Linked DNA regions of Homo sapiens: all the other regions are linked to region 1. The links come from fine-mapping of genetic effects on gene expression. A gene starts in region 1. Each other region holds a variant in brackets. All regions are shown on one strand. Distances are from middle to middle.

Region 1 (8,000 bases):
AATAGCTGGGATTACAGGAACCCGCCACCACACCCAGCTAATTTTTGTATTTTTAGTAGAGACAGGGTTTCACCATGTTGGCCAGGCTGATCTCAAACTCCTGACCTCAGGTGATCTGCCTGCCTCAGCCTCCCAAAGTGCTGGGATTACAGGTGTGAGCCACCATGCCCAGCCTCAGTTAATTGTTAATACTACCTCTCTGTACTTCCAGGATCATTAAAACTGGCTGGGAAGCCTGAAATCAAGAATTTCTGCAGAAGATAAAAGAACAGGCAGAGTAATAAAAACAGAAAATCTTGAAATTGTTTTATGGGCTTCCAGGGGAAATGAGCCATTAAAAGAAATCATCTAGATCTGATCTGATCGCCTGGGCCTGGGAGTTCAAAGCTGTTTTGAGCCTAGAAGATGTACAATACCACAGTCAAGACCCTTACTACCTACTTAGACTGCCACAATAGCTTCTAACTTGTGGCATCCTTCCAAATAAGATAACTGGTCCACGGTCCAGGGGTTGGGAACCCCTGAGGTAGAGGATGAATAATGCAACCAACCAACGAGTCAAGTGCATGAAGTATCATTAGTTCTATAATGCTATAAATCAATAAAGGCATTGTCCCCCCCAATTAAAATATGTTCACCAAATCATCCAGTTTAACTAAAGTCAGAACTTTCTCGTCACTTAAAATGAATTGCCTTAATAATGGAGATATACGTGAAGATCAGCGATCTGGGCATCTACAGATCGTGATCAAAAATATGGTTCAATTAAGCACTATATCATCTCTGTAGCTGCTTCAAATTATATGTCATATTTGCCAGGCTGTCTATCAGCCCATAACGTGGTATTAGGGAAGTCTAAACAAAATCATATGATAAACATTTCTACCTTCAAATGCCAAAGAACTAGAACCTTTCATGATTCCTAGGTGTCCTAGAGGTCACATTTTTTAAAAGTCACATTATTGTGTTCATTACTTCATTTTTATGATGGTCACATAATCTATATGTCATTGATGCTCATAACCTCCTCAAAAAAAAGGAATTTCAAAACTTGAGATATCAGCTGTAGCCTCTTATAAGTTATCACTTAGCAGAAAATAGCATTTAGCAGAAGATAGCCCCAAAAATCTTTCATTAAAGTCTTCACTTTCAAAGTCAGTTACATCTGGGTTCAAATTTTTGTGCTACCACTTGCAAAATTTTGCTCCACCATGACAAATGTGGGCTGTGTGACTCTCTGAGCCATAAATTCCTCACCGAGGAAATAGGAAAAATGATACCTGCTTTATAGGAGTGATAAGCAGTTAACTGATACACTGTATAAAGCATATATATGGCCTAGTACATTACATATAACAATTTCTAAGTAAAGTTTTTCTTTCTTGATAGAATTAAAACATTTATGTTTTTCCTTTTCTGCCTTATATTCCTCCTTCTTATCCAGGGATGGATTTTTCTAATCATCTCTAGGAACTATTTTATTCTAAGGACTAAATATTCTAGTCTAATAACTATTTTACCACAGTGACAAGGTAGGTAATAATACCGACTACAAATAAGAAATCAGAAAATGAAAGATCTGTGAGTCAATGGCAGACAAATTTAAACTACCACCATGAAGGAGACCGGCAACTTCCCATAGTGAAAGAGTGTTAATAAAAAGGATCCTTTCCTCCAACTGAGTCCAAAAATAAATGCTATTTCAAAAGCTACTGGACAAACATTAACTTGTCTCTGAGACTACTTCCTCCTAAAGCAGATGGCACCTGGAAGCACCAGAAGCCTACATTCTAGGTGTGGTATGACTTTACTCTCTTAGCCATGGTGCCTTAAGTTACACAAGAGCAGGCTTTTAAGAGTGCATTTAAAATGTAGTTTACAAGCTATTCAGGGAAAAAGAAAAGTGCACAATCTTTTGCCCTCATCTCAGCTATGTGTGTGTATGTGAATGGAAATGTAACCAATACGACAGCTTGATGTCACATGTATTTGCAGAGATTTTTATAAAAACACAGTAAGACATTTTTAAAATTATTACATTGATTTTACAAAAACAACTGTCATACCACACTGAGTCTACTATTTGGTCCTCCCAAGGTTACAGCTGCAACTCCTATCCGACCCTTCCCCTTCCACACCCATGCCTCCATTTTCCTGTAGGGCATCTCGGCAGGAACACCACCACGAGGTTGTGAAACCACTCTGCTGCCACATTTCCTCATGCCTCACTGCTGAATGCGTGAGAGACACTACATGAAATTGGGCCTTGCCCAGACCTCTTTGTTACATTTGTAAATAAAATCAGATCAAATCACAAAGATATAATTGATTTAGGAGAGCCATGGTGCTATTCAGATAGGAAATATAAACAGAAGAGAAATGCCCTATGGTATCATAGTTTCCTTAAACAACACATCACTAGCTCAGTTTCTCAGAGTGAAAATGCTGTCACATACTCCCAAGGAAAAGAAGAGCTCATCCTTACACAAATTTGCTTTTAACTGTCAAAAGAAAATCCCAGAGAGACGCCCACTGCCTTACAAGTAAATCTAGGATTACAGTACCAAATCTGTTATAAAAACAACAATGAAATAAGTTCCAAGTTGTTTCTTCCTTTGACAAATACCCAAATAACTTCCATAATTTGAATACCAGGTCAAAAAGTTTTATTACAAGCAAAACAAATACTTCAGTCCTACTCATTGTTAGCAAGACACAAACCATATTAAAAAGCAGAACATGTGACTAACAATTAGCATACCTTGGAAGGGAAGGGACTTACTCAAATTTGAAAGGCTAGATAAAATTATGGGAAAATGAGACAAAAGTTCAGACAAAAAATAATCATATGCTAATAATTCATTTTTATACTCTGAAAATTATTCTTTTAAAATTTTAAATATACTTCTCATTTATTTGAACCCCAGAGTAAAAAATTTAGTGAGGGTTATCAAGAGTTCCCAATATTCAATCCCTTCCATCATTTAACCTAGACTTTAAAAAATAAAATTTGTGGATAAAGAAATCCTTTGACTCGAGAAAAGGAGAAACTCTTTTTCAGCATTAAACACAAAGACAGTATCTGATGAAAACAGTATATTCACCTATCCAAGTTCTCATAGGTAAACTTATAAAAGATGTTTAATTGCACATGTGAGTGGCAGTGATAATATGCAGCAACAAACTTCAAACTTCATCAAGAGATTTTTGTGATACTCAAAGGTATTACATCGCTAACTCTGAAAGAAAAAGAAAAGCCAGAATAAAGCCCCCTAAAATTTGCAACAGTACAACAGAATGAATGAAACATTGGTTCTGTTTTCACAAACTGGTTAAGACATCTTTCTTCACCACAGACACTAAACTGAGAGCTGCTTCATCAGGAGGCATCCTCTAAAAACTTCAATTATGAAGTTACTAATACTACCAGAGATTCAAAAACCAAGAGAGATTTGGGGGAAAGGGGGCATGAGATACAAGATCAGAGACAAGGGTAAAGATCAAAGCCACAAAATAACCAATCTGTACTTAATCGGAATTTTTCATACCCATGCATAAGGCAAACAAAGCAGGCAGGCAGGCAGGCACGCACACACACACACACACACACACACACACCACATTCCAAGAAAAAGAGGAAGAAAAATCTATTAGATACAAATTCAGATCAAATCTATTTGATACAAATCAGATACAGGAAGGGGTAGTAGTTCATTATGAGTGTCTACTTGAAATTCCTGAAAGGCTACTACAAAACCTGTCTAACACCTTCTCCTCCTGGCGTTCTAACAAGTCCTTTAAAATGCATTTTACAAGTTCAGGGCAAGTTGTGGAATGAGGAGTGCTATATACAACTCAAAACCTGCTCCCTTGAGCTCCAAACCTTCCCCCAGAAAACAGAAAGTCTTATTGGAAAAAAGACCGAAATGCAGAGAAGAAAAAGGGGTGCGGGTGGGGGTAGGGAGTGGACAGGACAAAGGAACTGTGAATTCCATAATCACCTGAACTTCTCTTCCCTTTCTTCCTCTTCACAGTCAGTCACCTGGATTATAACTTCAGACTCCAACCAGAAGACACTGTCATCCCCTAAAGTGCTACTCTCACTTTCAGTCTCCATCTTGTACTTAAAAAACAAAAAAAACTAAACCTCCAGGCATGGAATAAAAAGCACCAACATTCAGGTTGTTCAGCTCTACTCATGTATACTCAGATGTGTGTCTGGTGCCCTAGTGACAGGTACTGGTGCTGGTTTAATTACAGTCAGGGTACAGACAGGAAATCACAGGCAGCACAGTCACTGCGTCTGACTGCCATACTGGTGACACCTAGACCCTCCCACTGCCTTAGGCTGCGTGACCTACATAACCAAAAGCAGAATCTAAATGAAGGTGATTTTTTACTAATTATTCTGTAATAATGACTCTTCTCAAAGTTTCCACTTAATAAGTTAAAAATAGGTATTTTCAAAATGCAGGCTTTATTTGTATCCTTTTTTGATCTCGGACTCCAGAAAGGTAAATAGAAAACTAGAAAGAATAACACCATCCACTGGCCAAGCACATGAGAAGCACAGTTATAGATCTCACAGTTAAGGAGGCTCACAATAAGTAGAGAAGATAAGTATGCTCTAGGGACCTGCCTAGGTTCATGCCTTCCAATATTACACCCATCTTTCCTTCCTCTCAGTAAGGACTGCCATATGCATCTCTGCTCAAGTATCCAGAGTGAGACATAAAAGCTGGGCTTGTCCACAGTCCTTGAAAGAAAAAAGTTTAAGTGTCCCAAGTTCAAAGATGCTGACAATCACATCAAATAAAAGCATGCAAAGTTTTACACATTTAAACTGCAAACAGTCATGGTGGCAATAAAATGACTTGCTGGGAAATGAGTGAAAGGTATAGCATCTATGACTGTCAACAACACAACTGTTACTTAGAAAAGAGCCATGTTGACAGAAACTACTGACCTGCTGGATATTCATGGCTATTTGTCTTTTACCAAGCAGCAACAAACTGCAAAGCCCTGACTTTCCACTGTATCTGATTTAATCAAAAATTAAGAAGACATCTACTGAAGTCTTCTTGAATTTTCATATTTGAAAAATAAAGAGCCAAGCACAGTGGCTCACGCCTGTAATCCCAACACTTTGAGAGGCTGAGGTGGATGCATCACTTGAGCTCAAGAGTTCAAGACCAACCTGGGCAACTTAGCGAGACCTCATCTTTATGGGGGGGGGGGGGGGGGGGCGGGAAACAGCCAAGTGTGGTGGTGCACCCTGTAGTCCCAGCTACTCAACAGGCTGAGGTGGGAGGATCGCCTGAGCCTGGGAGTTCAAGGCTGTTGTGAGCCATAATCACGCCACTGCACTCCAGCCTGGGCAACACAGCAAGACCCTGTCTCAAAAAAAAAAAAAAAAAAATATATATATATGCAGGTCCCTAGAGCATATAATATATATATTATATATAATATATATATATTATATATAATATATATATATTATATAATATATGTTATATATAATATATAATATATGTTATATAATATATATAATATATGTTATATAATACATATACAATATATATTATATATAATATATAATATATATTATATAATATATAATATATATTATATATTATATATTATATATAATATATATTATATAATACATATAATACATATATAAATTTTAAAAACTTTTCAAAAAAAATTTTTTAAACCAAAAACAACAGAACAACATTATAAGCAAAGTCAAAATGCAAACAAGTTGAGAAAAAAATATTTGAAACATATCACAAAGGGTTAATTTATTTAATATATAAAAAGTTCTTAAAAACTTCTAAGACCCAAGAGCTCAAAAGATAAATAGGCAAAGAGCAAAAATATAATACTCAGAGATAAACATAAAAGAAACTTAAAAGATGTTAAAAGTAACTTCACTGATAACAGAAATGTAAAACAATACATAATAAGATGACTTTTAAAAAATCTATCACATAGGCAAAGCTTTTAAAAGGTTTTAACAAACTGAAAGAGGACATGGGAAAAGAAACATGCCTGTCAGTGGGAGTTTAAACTGGTACAACCTGTGTTCAGGGCAATTTAGCAAAATCTACCAAAATTCAAAATGCACATCTTTTTGGCCCAGCAATTTCTCTTTTAGGAAATTATCTCACTTTCACAAGTAGAAGTAAGAGGCAAACAGGAACATTCATTCTGGTAGACATTATAGTAGCAAAATAGGATAGCAAAAACAACCTAACTTCCTGAGGAATAGAAAACTAGGCAAATTACAGAATACCCATAGAATGGAATGCTACACAGTGAGTATATGAGAAAACAAGGCAGCCCTACAGGTCACAATACGGAACAAAGCCTAAGGAATACTGTTAAGGCAAAGAAGAAAGGGGTAAAAGTATAGGGCAGTATGTGCAGTATGCTATGCTGCCATCTGTGTTTTCAATGAGGAGTTAGGAGAAACAAATGCAGACTATCTATGGAAGAAGAGGATCAGTACTAGTACCAGTAGTTGTCTCCACGGAGGAAAACAGACAGCTGGAGAAGAGGAATAAAAGAAAGACACGCTTGAACCCGGGAGGTGGAGATTGTTGCAGTGAGCCGAGATCACGCCATTGCACTCCAGCCTGGGCAACAAGAGTGAAACTCCGTCTCAAAAAAAAAAGAAGAAAGAAAGATAGTTTTTCACTATGTCATGCACATATAATCCTTACCAAAATATTAACTAATTTTAAATAGAATCTTTCATGACCTTCAGTAAAGAATTGGATTTTTAAATATTATTTCATTAAGAATCTAGTTCTTTTTTTTCTAAACAACTCTAACTCCTTCAAAGTGTTGTTTTTTTGTGGGGGGGGGGGTTGTTTTGTTTTGTTTTGTTTGTTTGTTGAAACAGGGTCTTGTTCTGTCACCTAGGCTGGAGTGCAGTGGCACGATCTCGACTCACTGCAACCTCCACCTCCCAGTTCAGGCAATCCTCCTGCCTCAGCCTCCCAAGCAGCTGGGATTATAAGTGTGTGCCACGACACCTGCTAATTTTTGTTGTTGTTGTTGTATTTTTAGTAGAGATGGGGTTTCACCATGTTGGCCAGGCTGGTCTCGAACTCCTGATCTCAAGTGATCTGCCTGCCTCTGCCTCCCAAAGTGCTGGGATTACAGGTATGAGCTACTGTGCCCGGCCTCAAAGCGTTTTCATGAATCCTATTCACCTTTTCTTTTAATCATTCTTTTGTTCTTTCATTATGATGGTTGATTTCCCTCACTTCGAGCCTTTCAAAAGTGAAAACGTGAACTGTGAGTGGTATTTTTACACAGAATACTGAAGGACAGTTAAATGTGCACATCTTCCGAGGCTTGTTCTGTTTTGACTCTGCCATCACAAGTTTTTTAAAAATGTTTTTCCTGCCTCAGCTTCCCGAGTAGCTGGGATTACAGGCACCCGCCACCACACCCGCCTAATTTTTTATTTTTAGTAGAGAAGAGGTTTCACCATGTTGGCCAGGGTGGTCACAAACTCCTGACCTCAAGTGATCCACCCGCCTCGGCTGGAGGTTGCTGTGAGCCGAGATCACGCCATTGCGCTCCAGCCTGGAAGACAAGAGCGAACCTCCGTCTCAAAAAAAAAGGAAAAAAAGTTTTTAAATTCAAAACCTACATGTGTTTCTGTTTTCTGTTCCCTTCTCCAGTAGTAAATGAAAATCCAGCGGAATCAACAGGTGATGGTTAACAGCGGGGGCAGGGATGGAACACAGCCGAGTCCATCACTCTGGCTACCAGTGTGTGAGAGAGACTAGATACTGCTGAAGACCACAAGGTGGTTTTAACTCCTTTTCTTCCTGATTTGTTTAAACCCTGATCAGCCTTCACTTTCCCAACAAGCTTTTATGGAGCTGAAGTCTTTGACTGAAACCACAGGAGTCACCAGCAGTAATTTCGAACTAGCTGGTTCTCATCTTCTACCTCCAAGAGGTAGGGAACCTGAG
Region 2 (8,000 bases), 78 kb after region 1:
CTAATCTAAAGAAGAGAGCTATAAAAAATGAGTAACACATAAAATCCAGTTTCAAGATGCTCCATCAATTGGTTGAATCTCATAAAAATAATTCTGTTTAGTAGGGATTAAACATAAAACTGAATATTTAGATTAAAAAATAACAATAAAAGGAAAACAATGTAACAAAATTTGGGAGAGAAAAGCTCTAAAAAATGTAATTTCCTACAAGCCCTAGATGAATAAGAGTGACAAGTTATCCCAAAAAAAGGTACACGGAACACAATTTGGGTTAGTAGAGAGAAATACCAAAATAAGTCATAAAAACGGAGTTCTAGTTTCAACTGGCCTACTTGAGTAAGAAAATGTCACTAGATAAGTGACTTAACCTGGATCTATTTCCCTACTAATAAGAAGGGCACAAAACCTACTGTGACACCTCTTACTCTTTCAGGTGGACCAAGTGATAATGTTCATTAAAATATATATATATATGCTCCTAAACCTGCCCATAAAGCACCTGATACTGGTAGCATAGTAGCACTGGTACAGGCACCCTGGGGTAAATAGGTCATCCTGCTGGAAAAGTGATCAGCCTAGAAGCTCTTGCCACTCTACCCCTGACAATCCTGGGAACTAAGGGAATCAGTATTTCTGGCCCATCTGTAACACATTCAGAGAACTGCTGGCACACTGGTTAGGAAGCTCTAACTAAAACATCACATCTAATTTGAGGCACCATAAGAGAGATTGTACCATTTTCCACAATAACCAACTCTAGCAATAGGACCAAAACCAGAGTTTTACTTGCATAGAACAGTACTGCTTAGACCTAAACAATGGCACCCATCCTGGGCCTCAAGCTTTAGAGGGCCTTGCACTGGCCTTCCTCTAACCATACCCCTGACCATGGGGCCAGCTATGCTAAGGGCCTAAAGGATGTGCCCATCTGCAGCCTACGTGCCCCAGCCCTCATCTTGACCGGGACCCCAAAATCTCCCACCTCTTCCAGGGTCTGCTCAGGCCTCTCCCCTGAGTCAGTTCTCCTAAGGACAGATGACCCAACCAACAGTATTTACAACCCTAGGCCAAAGAATGGCCAAAGAGCTGCTGTTTGGAGGGTGTACAGGCTGGAGTTCCACAGACACGCACATGCAAACTTCATAGTTCAAGGAGCCTGGGGAAGAGAAGAAGACCTCAGGTCAGAGGCTGACTCTCTGCACCTCAGCTTGTTCTAAAAACAAACTCAGAGTTGGGAGGCCAAGGAGGGTAGATGACTTGAGATCAGGAGTTCGAGACCAACCTGGCCAACATGGTGAAACCCCGTCTCTCTAACAAAAATGTAAAAATTAACGGGGCATGATGGCACATACCTGTGGTCCCTCAGCTACTCAGGAGGTTGAGGCAGGAAAATCACTTGAACCTGGGAGGCGGAGGTTTCAGTAAGCCAAGATCATGCCACTGCACTCCGCTCCAGCCTGGGCAACAAAGCAAGACTCTGTCTCAAAAACAAAACAAAAAAACAAACTCAGAGGAATCTGAATTCTCTGACTCTGATCTAGGTTATTATGAAGTTTTATTTGATAAAGTCAGCAAATGGAACATTTTCTATTTATCAGTTAACTTGACTGATAATTTGTATAGACATATGTTTCGAGACCCCGTCTCAAAAACAAAACAAAAAAAACAAACTCAGAGGAATCTGAATTCTCTGTTTGACTCTGATCTAGGTTACTATGGAGTTTTATTTGATAAAATCAGCAATGGAACATTTTCTATTTATCAGTTAACTTGATTCATAACTTGCATAGACATATGAACCTCGTCTTAGTCCGTTTAGTACTGCCATAAAGGAACACCTGAAATTGGGTAATTTATAAAGAAGGTTTATTTGGTGCACAATTCTGCCAGCTGGAAGGTTAGGCATCTGGTGAAAGCTTCAGGCTGCTTCTACTCATGGCAGAAGGCAAAGGGGAGCCAGCATGTGCAGAGATCACATGGTGAGAGAGGAAGCAAGTGGAGGGAGGTACCAGGCTCTTTTCCACAACCAGCTCTCTGTGGGGAACTAACGGAGGGACAGCTCGCTCACTCACCCCCCACCCACGGAAGGCATTAATGTAGACAGGAAGGCTCCACTCTCATGACCCAAAAACCTCCTATTAGGCCCCAACTTCAATGCTGAGGATCAAATTTCAACATTAGGTTTGGAGGGGTCAAATATCCAAACCATAGCAGATCTGCAATTTGTATCCCTACCCCGAGTCCCAAAAATGTTAGGGATGGGCCTGAAAAATAATCTAAAAACCTTGTCCTATGAGGAATAGTTGAAGAAAATGAATCCATTGAGCCTAGAAAGAGAAAAGACTGGTGGGAAGATAAAAGAACTAGCCATTTTTCACAGACAGCTAAAGAGCTATCATGTGAAAAATAAAGCAGATCTGTGTGGAGTCAGAAATGCATGGAGTAGTGTTCCAATTTCATAGAATGAGATACATTTCCTAACAATAAGAACTCTTTTTAAAAAGTTAATCGGTCATGTGAATAACTGAGTTTTCAGACAGTAAAAATAAAGAAGCAGAGGGTAAGTACCTCCCAAGGATAATGTAGAAGGAATTCTGATATTAGAGAAAGGCAGATGGCATATTCCCTGGGGGCCTATATAGCGGCAATATGAAGATATAGCTCTATATGCAGAGACTAGTGGTATGAGACACAGGCAAAACCAAAGTTACACCCTGAAGTAACCTTTCTTTCTTTAAAAGTTCCTGTCATCTTGCTCTTTCGTTATTTGCCTCCTCACCAAAAAAAAAAAAAAAAAAAAAAAAAAAAAAAGGTGAATTCCTCCATTCTTCAAAATTAGTTACTAAATAGAAGACCAAAGCAGCCTTGTCTCAATGGATTTTTCACCCTCCAGCAAATCACAACTTTCTCTACTGCTACCAGCTGGATCCTGTGACTTCTCATTATTGCTGAAAACCCTGCTCCATTTCTAAAAGTGACTCTAGCACCTCTCTATCATCAACAAATGTTTATTAAGTAGGAATGCTAGAGATACAGCAGGAGCCTAGACAAAGCCCTCACCCCTTGAGTAGCTCAGAGAGAGGGGGGTTATAAATTAAACACATGGCCGGGCACAGTGGCTCATGCCTATAATCCCAGAGCTTTGGAAGGCCAATGCAGTTGAATCACTTGAGTCCAGGAGTTCGAGACCAGCCTGGGCAACACGGTGAAACCCCATCTCTATTTAAAAATACAAAAATTAGCCAGACGTGGTGGTGCACACCTGTAATTCCAGCTACTTGGGGGCTAAGGTGGGAGGACTGCTTGAGCCCAGTAAGTCGAGGCTTCAGTGAGCTGAGATCGCACCACTGCACTCCAGCCTGGGTGACAAAATGAGGCCCTCTCTCGAAAAATAAATTAATTAATTAATTAAACAAATAAGCAAATAATAAATGAATATGAAGAAGACAAAATGGGATGATATAAAAGAAAGAGGTGGGGGTGCTACATATACAGGTAATCATGATGGTCTCTCTGGGAGAGGACGAAGGCAGCCATGACGAGACTTAAAAGAAGTACATGGCCAGGCGCCATAACTCACGCCTATAATCCCAACACTTTGAGAGGCTGAGGCAGGTGGATCCTTTGAACCCAAGAGTTTGACACCAGCCTGGACAACATAGAGAGACTTCGTCTCTACAAAAATTACAAAAATTAGCCCGGCACAGTGGCACGCACCTATAGTCTTAGCTCCTTGGAAGGCTGACGTAGGAGGATCACCTGAGCCCAGGAGTTCGAGGTTACAACGAGCTATGATCACTCCATCCTGGGTGACAGAGTAAAACCCTGTCTCTAAAAAAAATTAAAAATAAGTCATTTTAAGTAAAAGGAACAGCAAACACAAATCCCTAAGACAGAACGTGCTTTTATTCAAAGGGAAGAAACAATGTCATATACCACACACCCATAAGTATGGCCAAAATTTAAAACACTGACAACACCAAATGTGGACAAGGATGTGGGACAACAGGAACTCTCATTCACTATTGGTGAGGTTGTAAAATGGCACAGCCACTTGGGAAGACAGTGTTGCAGTTTCTTGCAAAACTAAACTTATTCTTAACATATGATCCCGCAATCGCATGCTTAGGTATTTACACAAGATGAAAACTTACTTATTAAAAAAAAAAAACCACACCCAGATGCTTGTAGCAACTTTATCCAGAGCTGCCAAAACTTAGGAGCAACTAGGATGTCCTTCAGCAGGTGAATGAATAAATAAACTGTAGTATATCCAGACAATGGAATATTACTCAGCAATAAAAAAGAAATGAACAATCAAGCCACGAAAAGACAGGGAAGAAACTTAAATGTTTATCCTAAGTGAAAGAAGCTAGTCTGAAGAGGCTACATACTCTATGATTCTAACTATATGACATTCTGGAAAAGGCAAAAGTATGGAAACAGTAAAAAGGCTGGTGGTTGACAGGGGCTGGGGAGAGGGAGGGATGAATAGCCAAATCACAGATGATTTTCAGCAGAGTCAAACTACTCTATAAGATACTATGATGTGGATACATGTCATTATTAATTTGTCCAAATCCATAGAAGGTACAACACCAAGAGTCAGTCTTTTTTTTTTTTCTCCTCTCAGAACAAGTGGGAAAAATGAGTGAATCCTAATGTAACCTATGGACTTCGGGTGATAATGATGTTTCAATGTAGGCTCATCAACTGTAACAAATATGCGACTCTGATGTGGGATGCTGATAATGGGGGAAGCTGCATATGTGTAAAGACAAGGGGTATACAGGAAACTTCTGCACCTTTAGCTCGGTTTTGCTGTGAACGTAAAAATAGTCTACTTAAAAAAAAAAAGGAACATCACTGAGACTGT[G/A]GCTCAGTGAACAAAGAAGAAAAGAAGAGAGAGCAGAAGATGAGAGCAGAGAAGCAGCCAGGAGCCATATCACACATTACAAACATTTTGGACCACATAATTTTTTGCTGCTGGGAGTTGTCCTGTGCATTACTGGATGTTGGATGTTTAGCAGCCACTTTGGCCTCTACCCACTAGATGCCAGTGGCAACCTACCCCAATTTGTGACAACCAAGAATGTCTCCAGACATCACCTGAGGGGAAAATCTTCCCTGGTTAAGAACCACTGATATGGAGCCTCATAAGCGACCAAAATGAAGGGTTTATTTCCACGGTAAAATGTTAAGTTTTTGTTTTAGCATTAAGTATATTGGAAAGCCAGTAAGCAGAATGATACGATCTGATTAACGTTTAACATTATTTTGGCTCCCGTGTATGGTAAGAATGAGGGGAAGGACAAGGACAGGAGTAGAAGCAGGGAAGTCTGCTGGCAGTTTGCCAGACGACAAAGCCTACTAGCCTAGCCTAGCCTAGGTTTTTGCCAGTGAAAAAAGTGAGATGTAGTCAGGTTCGGTTTATATTATAAAGGTGGAGGTGACCAGACTTAACATGAGATGAGGAGGAAAAAAAGAAATCAAGGAGGAGGAAGAATCCGGGGTTCTGGCCTGCGCAAGTGGTGGATGATGATGCCACTTACTGAGATGGTAAAGACTTGGGGGAGGTAGAGGAAGAAGTCACCAACAGGAAGAGTAATTCATAGCCCTCCTTTGTTCATGCTGCCTTTGAGGTATCCATTAGACATCCAAGGAGAGGCATGGAGTTACAAGAGTCTAGAGCGCAAGGGGGAAAAAAGTCAGTACTAGAAATAAGAATTTGAGCCTCATCGGCATATAAATGGTATTTGAAACCAAAAATTGGATGAAATCACCTGAGGGACATTCCAAATTTTCAAGGAGTGGGAAAGTAGAGATAAACTGGCAAAAGCATATAGAAAATGAGAATGAACAACTAAGAGGTCAAAACTAGTAAAGTTGGCCACTGTGAAATGCTGGTGAGAGAGGTCAAATAAGATACAAACATTGAACTGACCACTAGCTTTGGCAAGATCCAGGTCACTGCAGTCTTGATTAAAAACAATTTCATTGGAGTGCAATTAAAAAAAGAAATCAAGGATAAGGATGACTCCAGGGGTTCTGGCCTGCACAAGTGGTGGCTGATGATGCCACTTACTGAAATGGTAAAGACTTGGGGGAGAGAGAGGAAGAAGTCACTGGCAGGAAGAGTAATTCATATGATGAGCTCAAATGATCAGGCTAAAGAATCACTGGTGAAGAAGAAGGTACAGCAAATATAAACAACTCTTGAAATTTCTGCTGCAAAAGGAAACAAAAAAAGGACAATAAATGTAAATGAAGGGGATCCCAAGGTAAAGGTGGTTTAAAAGGTGTGATTTATTCATTTAAGGCATCAGTAGCTCAAGAGATAAAACTTTATTCCTCTCTCACCTAACCACCCAAAGATAAATGAGAAGTACAAGGCTAGGAGGCAGTTCTGCTCCACAAGATCATCTAAAAATCCATCTTATTCATCCATCCCCCGCTAAGGTATTGCCCTCACCTTTGCAGGTTGAATAATATGCCCCATCAGTGCATTAACATCCTACACTCTCATCTGCAAAAGGGGATAAAGAGAAAATAGAAAACGATTAGCTTCCTTTCTAAGGCTACAACCCAGAAATCACACATACCACTTATGTCCACATCCATTTAGCCAGAATTTAGTCCACATCCAACTATAAAAGAGAAGCTAGGAAATGCAGTTTCTAGCTGGGCCAACATGTGCCCAGATAAACCCTGAGGATCCTATATACTAAAAGGAAGCCACAGAGAATGGCATTGGGTAGACAACTAGCTATCACTGCTGCAAGTAACAAAAGGCATGGATGCTAACTGAAAGAGGATTCAGTAAAGAGAGAATGATATCTTAGGAAAGAAAACTGCTAGAATAGAAGACCTGTAGGCAAGAAGAAATGAGATCCAGGCACAAATGTACTGCCTCAGGAACAAGCTCACTTTGGTCTCTTGTCACTTCTCGCACGCTTTATTTTTCAGAAGGGTTATCCGTTGATTGCATTTCTAGTAAATTAAAGTAAACCTTTCCTTCCATCTACTAAATCAATTACGCAGAATGTGTGTAAAAATCTGGCTTTAATTGAGCAGTTCTTACTTGGGTTGTCTACCAACAGGTTGATTCAGAGCTGCTGCTTCTCCATCAAAGACAGAATGACCAAATTTCAGAGTTGGAGGGAGTCTACAAAGCCCATTTTACATGTTCAAGGTCACAAGGCTACAAAGTATCCTCTCCAATAGTACATCACAAGTCCTCAAACTGCCAGATCATTCCACTATCTCCTTGCTTACTTATAATATTCCTTTTCATAAAATAGTTTGTCTCCCCATGAAATGAACACCTCCTGAGGGCAAAGACTCAATGACACCTTCTTACCTATCTATCTTCCACTGCTTGAAGCATGGCAGGAGACACACAGATGTACTCAGTGGATACTTGTCAGTTCACAGATACAAAGAGATGTGGTTTCCCTTATCCTACTGTGTCAGGATTGCTATTCCTACTTAATCTGGAGGGCCACTGAATATAAAACAAGAAGGAAGGTCTGTCAGATTCTCCTTAGGTAGGTCAATGGAAACTGGACCTTTGGAGACAGAAATTACTTGTCCAAAGTCACAAGCTGTTTACAACAGAGCCAAGACAAACATCCAGGTCCTCTTGACTCCAGGTTCAAAACTCATTTTCCTGTTAAAAGTTGCTTCACTTTTTTGGTCTGTGTTTGATATCCTGGGTAATTACTGAACTTCACATGATATATTCTGCACAGCTACTGAAGATGCTACTCATCTTAAGAGTCCTTCAACCACCTATATTTCTCCAATGAAAGGAGGAACAGGAATTACTGTTTCCATGCTACACACAGGGAATAAAAGCAGTGGAGTCAAATGGCTTGCTTCACATCACAAGGCTGAAATCCAAATAAGGATTTTACTATTTTTAGGGCAAACTGATAGAATTTTCTAGAAGATTCTCTCCTAGAGTATGATGCTTATCTTTTCAAACAGAGACAAATTGG
Region 3 (8,000 bases), 89 kb before region 1:
AATCAACTAAACACATTTAAAAAGCATTAATGCAGGAATATAGGGAAAAAAGCTATAAGATATAAAGAAAACATATAGAAAAATGAGAGAAGTCCCTCCTTATCAGTAATTACTTTTAATGTGAATGAAATAAACAGTACAATCAAAGACAGGGATTGGCAGAATAACAAAGTAACATAATTCAATTACAGTGATGTGCCACCATAACAACATTTTGGTCAATGACAAACTGCATATATCACAGTGGGCCCATAAGATTATAAAACCACATTCTTACTGTACCTCTTCCATGTTTAGAGACACAAATGCTTACCATTGTGTTACAACTGCCTATAGTATTCAGCAGATTAACATTCTGAACCAGTTTGTAGCCTAGAAGCAATAGGCTACACCAGATAGCTTGGGTGTATGGTAGGCTATACCTATTCTAAGTATGTTTTAGAGATATTCACAACTACAAAATCACCTAATAATATATCCCTCTGAAAATAACCCTGTTAAGTGATGCATTACTATATATGGTGGTTACAGGAGATACACTTTAGACCCAAATACACAAATAGATTGAAAGTGGAAGGATGGAAAAAGATATTCCATGCAAATTGAAACCAAAAGAGAGTGGAGGTGACTATACTAAAAATAAATAAAACAGACACTAAACCAAAAAGTTTAGAAACAAAAAAGAATAGTATATGATAATAGAAGGTTCAATACACAAAGAAGATACAATTATAAGCAGTGGGGGAGAACAAGGTGGCTGACTAGATGCAGCCAGGTGAAACAGCTCCCACTGAGAGACCAAGATGACTGGCGTGCTTCTAACAGATCTTCAGAGGGAAGGCACCCAGAGTGTACACAAGGAAGACACAGAAGCTAGGCTGAAGGGGGAGAAAGCTGGGAACCCTGCATGGGGCTACTGTGCACTGCACCAGGACTCGTTCCTGGATCCCAACAGCTCCCGGGGAAGAGGTGAATTGAACTGGCAAGGAGCAACCTGCACTCGCTACAGGCCTCTGAAACCCTGGCAGGCAGAGACCCCCCTTTGACCACCATGGACACTTGAATTGGCAGGGAGAGCTTCTTAGAGAAGTGGTAGGGGCAGCAATCCAGTTGATGTGGAGCCCAGAAGGTTTGATGCAGGAGCATCCATAGCAGAGCACATTTAGGAGTGGTCATGCCCATAAGCTCAACTTGCAACCATAGGTGGCTTTACTTCAAGGGGAACTGCTAGACCTGATCTCTGCAAGATGGTCTTGCCCATCAGATGGGGCCAGTTCAATCTGACCATCCCTTGGTGTGCTGGCCTCTCCCAAGGACCCAGCCTGGCCACACATGCTTGCAGGGCAGCCTCACATGTCCTGGGAGCTATATCACAGCTTCTGCAATGGTGGACCATGCCTGACCTGTGGAGAGCTGCAGAGGGGTGGCATCTATGACCATGCATCAGCCCAGACTCCCTCCCCATATGTCAGCTTCCCCTGAGGCCATGGCAACTCCACACATCACTTTGCTGGCACATGTCAGTATGGGCAGGTTTCGCTTTCCTTTCTCCACCAGTGAACAAGAGTGCAATCCACCCTACCTCCACCTGCCGACCACCACTGTAGACGGAGCCTTGGTGGGCAGAGCCAGCCAACCCCAACCCTGCCTGCACCCTGCCCTTATACTAACACTGCACAGAGAACAGCGAATCCTCTCCCACCCTGAGTGACCACTTCTGCTTATGTGGCACAGAGAAGGCACCTAGACCTGCGCCCACCAGCTCCCAAGCCAACACCACCTCCAGCACAACTGTGTGCACAGTAACCAACAGAGGGCCTCCACCCACCACCCAGCTGCATTGCCCCTGCCACTGTGGTGAATGCCCATAGGGAGCCAAGCACCCTGGCACCCACTAGCACTCTGCTGCAGCTGCTGTTACAAGGATGGACCCTGCTATCACCACACTATGAAATGCTTTGACTGTCACCACCCATTGGAGTGTAGTGACCAGCAGTCCAGGAGCACTTTGGTCCCCACCAACACAGTGGATTCCTAACCTCAAGGAGACAGAGAACAAAGTCTGGATGTAATACAGTTGGGAGCAGAGCGCTGGTCCCCCCAAAAATTTCCAGAAATGAAGCCAATCAGCTGAATCCCCTTCATAACACAATCAAACCCTAAAGGTCATCAAATAGGATAAAAGGGGGAAAAAAAACATCCAAAGGCCAGCAACCTAAAAGACTGTACATAAGCCCACAAACATGAGAAAGAATCAGCACAAGAACCCTGAAAACTCAAAAAGCCAGAGTGCCTTCTATTCTCCAAACAAATGTATCCTCTCTTCAGTAAGGGTCCTGAACTGGCCTGAAATGGAAATAGAATTCAGAATATGCATAGGAATGAAGATCACTGGGCTACAGGAGTACACTAAAACCCAATCCAAGGAAGCTAAAAAGCATGATAAAACAATACAGGAGCTGACAGACAAAATAGCCAGTATAGAAAATAATGTAACCAACCTGATAGAGCTGAAAAACACACTACAAGAAGTTTATAATGCAATCACAAGTATTAACAGCAGAACAGACCAAGCATAGGAAAGAATCTCAAAGCTTGAAGACAGGCATTCTGAAATAAGACAGACAGACAAGAATAGAGAAAAAAGAATGAAAATGAACAAATAAAACCTCCAAGAAATATGGGATTGTGTAAAGAGACCAAATCTACAACCCCCTGGTGGCCCTTAAAGAGGTGGAGAGAATGGAACCAAATTGGAAAACGTATTTCAGGATATCATCCATGAGAACTTCCCCAACCTAACTAGAGAAGCCAACATTCAAATTCAGGAAATGTAGAGAATTCAAGTAAGATACTTCACAAGAAGATCATCCACAAGACACATAATTGTCAGATTCTCCAAGGTCGAAATGAAAGAAAAAATGTGAAAGGCAGCTAGAAAGAAAGGTCAGGTCACCAACAAAGGGAAGCCCATCAGACTAACCACAGACCTCTCAGCAGAAACCCTACAAACCAGAAGATATTGAGAGTCAATATTCAACACTCTTAAAAAAATTCCAAGACAGAATTTCATATCTGGTGAAACTAAGCTTCATAAGCAAAGGAGAAATAAGATCCTTTTCAGACAAACAAATGCTGAGGGAATTAGTTACCACCAGACCTGCCTTACAAGAGCTCCTGAAGGAAGCACTAAATATGGAAAAGAAAAACTGTTACCAGCTGCTACAGAAACACACTGAAATAAGCAGACCAATGATACTATAAAGCAACCACATAAACAAGTCTGCAAAATAACCAGCTAACATCATGATGACAGGATCAAATCCACACATATCACTACTAACCTTGAATGTAAATGGGCTAAATACCCCAATTAAAAGACACACAGTGGCAAACTGGATAAAGAACCAAGACCCATTGGTATGCTGTCTTCAAGACACCTATGTCACATGCAGTGAGAACCACAGGTTCAAAATGAGGGAACTTCTATCACCTAACAACAACAAAAACAAAAACAATTTAAAAATGGGCAAAGTACTAGAGAATAGACATTTCTCCTAAGAAGATATACAAATGACCAGTAAGCACACAAAAAGATGTTCAAAATCACTAATCATTAGCAAATGCAAATCTAAACTACAATGAGATACCACTTCACATACATAAGGACACCTATTATCCAAAAACAGAAAACATCAAGTGCTGGTTTCAAATTAGAGTGACTAAAACCCTTGTACATTGTTGGTGGTATTCGTACTGCCACTGTGGAAAAGAGAATGGTGGTCCTCAAAAAGCTTAAAAGGAGAATTATTATATGACCTAGAAGAATTACTATATGACCTAGCAATTCCACTTCTGGGTATACACCCCCCAAAGACAAAACAGAGTCTCAAAGAGACATTTGTAAACCCATGTTCACAGAAGCATTATTCATCATAACTAAAAAGCAGAAGTAACCCAATGCCCATCAACAGATGACTGGATAAACAAAATGTGGTGCACACATTTACACATGTATACAAACAGGCAAAATGAAATATTATTCAGCCTCAGCCTTTAAAAAGAAAAAATTCTGACATATGCTACAACAGGGATGAACACTGTGCTCATGTTAAATATACCAAACACAAAAAGACAGATACTTGATTCTACATATGTGTGGTACTTACAGCAGTCAAAAGAAAATATGGGAAATCCAGCAGAGATTAAAACTATGAAAAAAAGTTCCATAGAAAATGCGAAAAATGATTTTTTGTATCAGATTTTAAGAGCAAACTGGCAACAGTAAATGAAAGGAGCAGTGAACTTGAAAACAGGTCAATGAAAAGTATCCACACTGAATCACTAAGAGAAAAAAAGAATAAACAAAAATAACAATACAGTTCAGCTCCCTAAGAGAATGTCAAACACATATAACCATAGATATAATTGGAGTACCAGAAGGAGATAAGAGAGAATGAAGCAGAATATCTCAGGAGATACCAGATGAGAACTTTCCAAAATATGTGAAAACATCAGCTTCAAAATCAAGAAACTCAGTGCACCCCAAACTAAATGAATAAATCAGTACTAAACATATCATAATTATAATTTTGAAAAGGAAAGATAAAGAAAAAACTTTCAATCTATAAAGAAAAAAACATACATGACTCATGGTGGAAAAGTATAAATAACAGCTGACTTCTCATCAGAAACAAGAGAGGGGAGAAGACAAAAAGAAAACATCTTTTAAGTGCTGAAAGAAATGTTGTCAATACTATTAATATAATTCATGCCAATAACCATCAGAAATTAAGCAACATAAAAATATTCACAAATAAAAATAATCTGAAAGAATCTGTCTCCAGTAGACT[A/C]GTCCAACCAAAAAACTAAAACAAGTTCTTCAGGCTAAAGAGAAATGGTACTAGACAAAAACCCAGAACTGCAGGAAGGAATAAACAGTTCCAGAAATAGGAAATATCTAAGTAACTATAAAACACCTAACATCTCAACAGTAACAGATGGAACGGTTTAAGAATATCTTTTAAGTTCTGAGAAAAGAGATTTACCAAGATGTTATTCATACCTAAACTATCATGTAAAAATAAGAGCCAAAAAAAGCATTTTCTGATGAACAAAAACTGAAGAGTTCCCACCAACAAAACCTCACCAAAAAAAATTTCTAAAATATGTACCTCAGAAGAAAAGGGATTCTAAAAGAATAAACTGAGAAGTAAGGTAGAAATATTGAACAAGAAATTCAGGAAATAAGTTTATAAATCGAAACAAATTTAGCTATATAAGAATAGTATTTAATTATGAAAGATGAAAAGTTAGAATTATCATCCTGAACAACACTAACATGGAGGAAAGAGTGATCACAGTTAAAATATTCTAAATGCTGATACTTTATGACAGAATCAGAGATACCAAAAAATTTAGCCTTTAAATTAGGTTTTTGAGTTATGATTTTAATTGCAGCCATAAAAAGAATAGAAAAATGATACATATTTTCTATTTTCTGGTTTCCAAACCAAAAGGAAGAGGATAAAATTTTTAAATGTCAATAACCTTAAAAGAAATTAAGACTAGAAATAAAATTAATCTCTCTAGGAAGAAATGGGGAGGAAGGCATAAGGAGAGAGAACATTTCAGAAAAAAAAAAGCAAGGAGATAAGAAGAAAAGAAAAAACTAAAAGAGAAAGAAGATGGCCAAATGGTGTCAATAAAATGGTAAAGTAGGTGGCTACAAGCTTCAATCCCTCCAAAAATCACAAAAAACAAGCACAATCTCTCAGAGTCAACTTTCTCAGTACTCCAGAAAACAGTAAAGGGTTTAGAATAACCAAGAGATCACTGAATCAAGGAAAAAGCCACTTCAAAATAGGAAAGCTTTGTGGCATTTTTACTTGTGCTTGCCCCAAACCTCTCTGGCTCAGCAGTAGTCTTAATGATGCCAACCCTCACCGGGCCTGAAAGGAATAGACAGACCCTATTCACAAACTATTGTTTGTCTCTTCTAACCTGTCTAGAGGCTACCTGAAGAACTGATGCAAGGTGCTTACCTACATTTCACCTAATATGGAACTCATTCAAGGAGGAAAACCATTAAATATTGCTTAAAAATACAGTAAGGCAAACAAAAACTCTACAACTATCTGGAGCAAAAAAATTATATTTGAGACATAAAGTAAACAACCTAAAATCTAAGAGGGAAAGCTGAGTAGAGAGGTCTCTGGGAAATGACAGCATTCAAAAGTGCCTGGGTATATGGAAGTATTTTGAAAGCCATGCACACGCACAGGGTAGGACACATACTCACAAAAAGCTAAGAAGTCCCTAGGTTTTCACCTCCAGCTGACCTCTAGGATAAGTGTAACATGAAGGGAAGACGAAGGCAGACCTGTAAACAGCTTCGCTAGGTGTTGAATGAGTATTCCAGTACAGAAGCAACACGTAAAGACCGGAGAAAGTGGCTTTTTCATTGATTTTTATTTTTCACTCCTGGCATTCAAAAAAATCCCTGACAAAACACTACCTAAACACAAGCTAAAAGAAGAAAGACTTTACTAAATACATATGACAAGGAATACAGTCTTCACTAAAACAGTTTGGAAAAAAAAATCACCAAACAAACCGCAGCCATGAACAATGAAAAAAATCAAACTCTTAAGGATAGACGAAAACCCAGTTTCCAGAGTTACTACACTATAATATTCAAATGTACAGTATGCCACACAAGCCACAAGTTATACAAAGAAACAGGAAAGCACACATTCATCAGAGGAAAAAACAAAAACTGTACCTGAGAAGTCTATATATGGGACTTAACTAGACACTAAATAAACTGTATTCAACACATTCAAAAAGTTCAAAGAAACCATGGACAAAGAAATAAGGGAAATCAAGAAACTGATGTATGAACATATGAGAATATTAGCAAGAAGTTATAAAGTATTAAAAAAACAAAGTCTGGGGCCAAAAGGTACAATAACTAAAGTTAAAATCTGACTAGACAAAAGACAACAGATGTTGGTGAGGCTGCAGAGAAAAGGAATTGCTTATATACTGTTGTTGGGAATGTAAATTACTTCAGCCATTGTCGAAAGCAGTTTGGAGATATCTCAAAAGAACTTTAAAAACAGAACTACCATTTGACCCAGCGATCCCATTACTGGATATATATACAAAAGAAAACAAATTGTTCTACCAAAAAGACGCATGCACTCACTTGTTCATCACAGCACTATTCACAATAGCAAAGACATGGAATCAACCTAGGTGCCCATCAAAAGTGAGCTAGATAAAGAAAATATGGTACACACATACCATGGAATACTACACAGCTATAAAAAAGAAAAAACCACGTCCTTTGCAGCAATATAAATGCAGACAGTGGTTATTAGCCTAAGCAAATTAACACAGGAGCAGAAAACTAAATACCAGACGTTCTCACTCATAAGTCGGAGCTGAACATCAGGTACTTACGGAAATAAAGATGGTAACAATAGACACTGGGGACTACTAGATAGGGGAGGGTGGCAGTGAGGAAAAGATTTAAAAACTAACTTTTGGGTGTTATTCTCAGTACGTGGGTGATGGGATTACTTGTACCCTAAACCTCAACATCACACAATATACCCAGGTAATAAATACACTTGTACATGTACTCCCTGAATCTAATATAAAAGTTGAAAAAGAAAATAAATATTCACTAGATAGCTCAACAACAGATTTGATCAAGAAGAAGAAAGAATCAGTCACCTTAAAGATAAGACAAGTAGATAAAATGTAATGAACAGAAAGAAGAAATAATTTTAAAAATTAATCAGTGCTTTAAAAAACCTATGAGACCCATCAAGTGGACCAACTCTCGCATTATGGAAATCTAAGAATGAAAAAGAGAATGGGGCAAATATTATTTTTTAAAATAATGGCTGAAATCATTCCAAATTTGATGAAAGACATAAATGTGCACATCCAAAATCCAAAGAGTTCCACACCAAGACACACTATAATCA

Which allele goes with the higher level. Alleles are on the strand shown, and positions count from the first base shown. SD is a standard deviation of normalised expression in the study named. Not every link is listed here.
With allele A in place of C in region 3, the expression in tibial nerve of the gene that starts at base 4,244 in region 1 is lower (moderate effect, 0.74 SD a copy in GTEx).

The links. PIP is the estimated chance that this variant, and not a neighbour inherited with it, causes the effect.
Region 2: its variant is the best candidate, but not a certain one, in a credible set for the expression of ARHGAP32 in whole blood (TOPMed, PIP 0.70).
Region 3: its variant is the best candidate, but not a certain one, in a credible set for the expression of ARHGAP32 in tibial nerve (GTEx, PIP 0.89).

Annotation. Positions count from the first base shown.
Region 1 is chr11:129,188,082-129,196,081 of GRCh38, forward strand. ARHGAP32 (Rho GTPase activating protein 32) reads right to left here and starts at 4,244. Exons shown (of 23, transcript NM_001378024.1): 1 at 4,002-4,244. The coding sequence starts at 4,117.
Region 2 is chr11:129,265,885-129,273,884 of GRCh38, forward strand. All of the region lies in intron 1 of LOC399975 (a long non-coding RNA gene), which reads right to left. It also overlaps a transcript of ARHGAP32 not described here. Among named protein-coding and RNA genes, the nearest start is that of ARHGAP32, 78 kb to the left of the region's middle. The variant G/A (reference allele first, on the strand shown) is at 4,877.
Region 3 is chr11:129,099,015-129,107,014 of GRCh38, forward strand. All of the region lies in intron 5 of ARHGAP32 (Rho GTPase activating protein 32), which reads right to left. Among named protein-coding and RNA genes, the nearest start is that of ARHGAP32, 89 kb to the right of the region's middle. The variant A/C (reference allele first, on the strand shown) is at 4,854.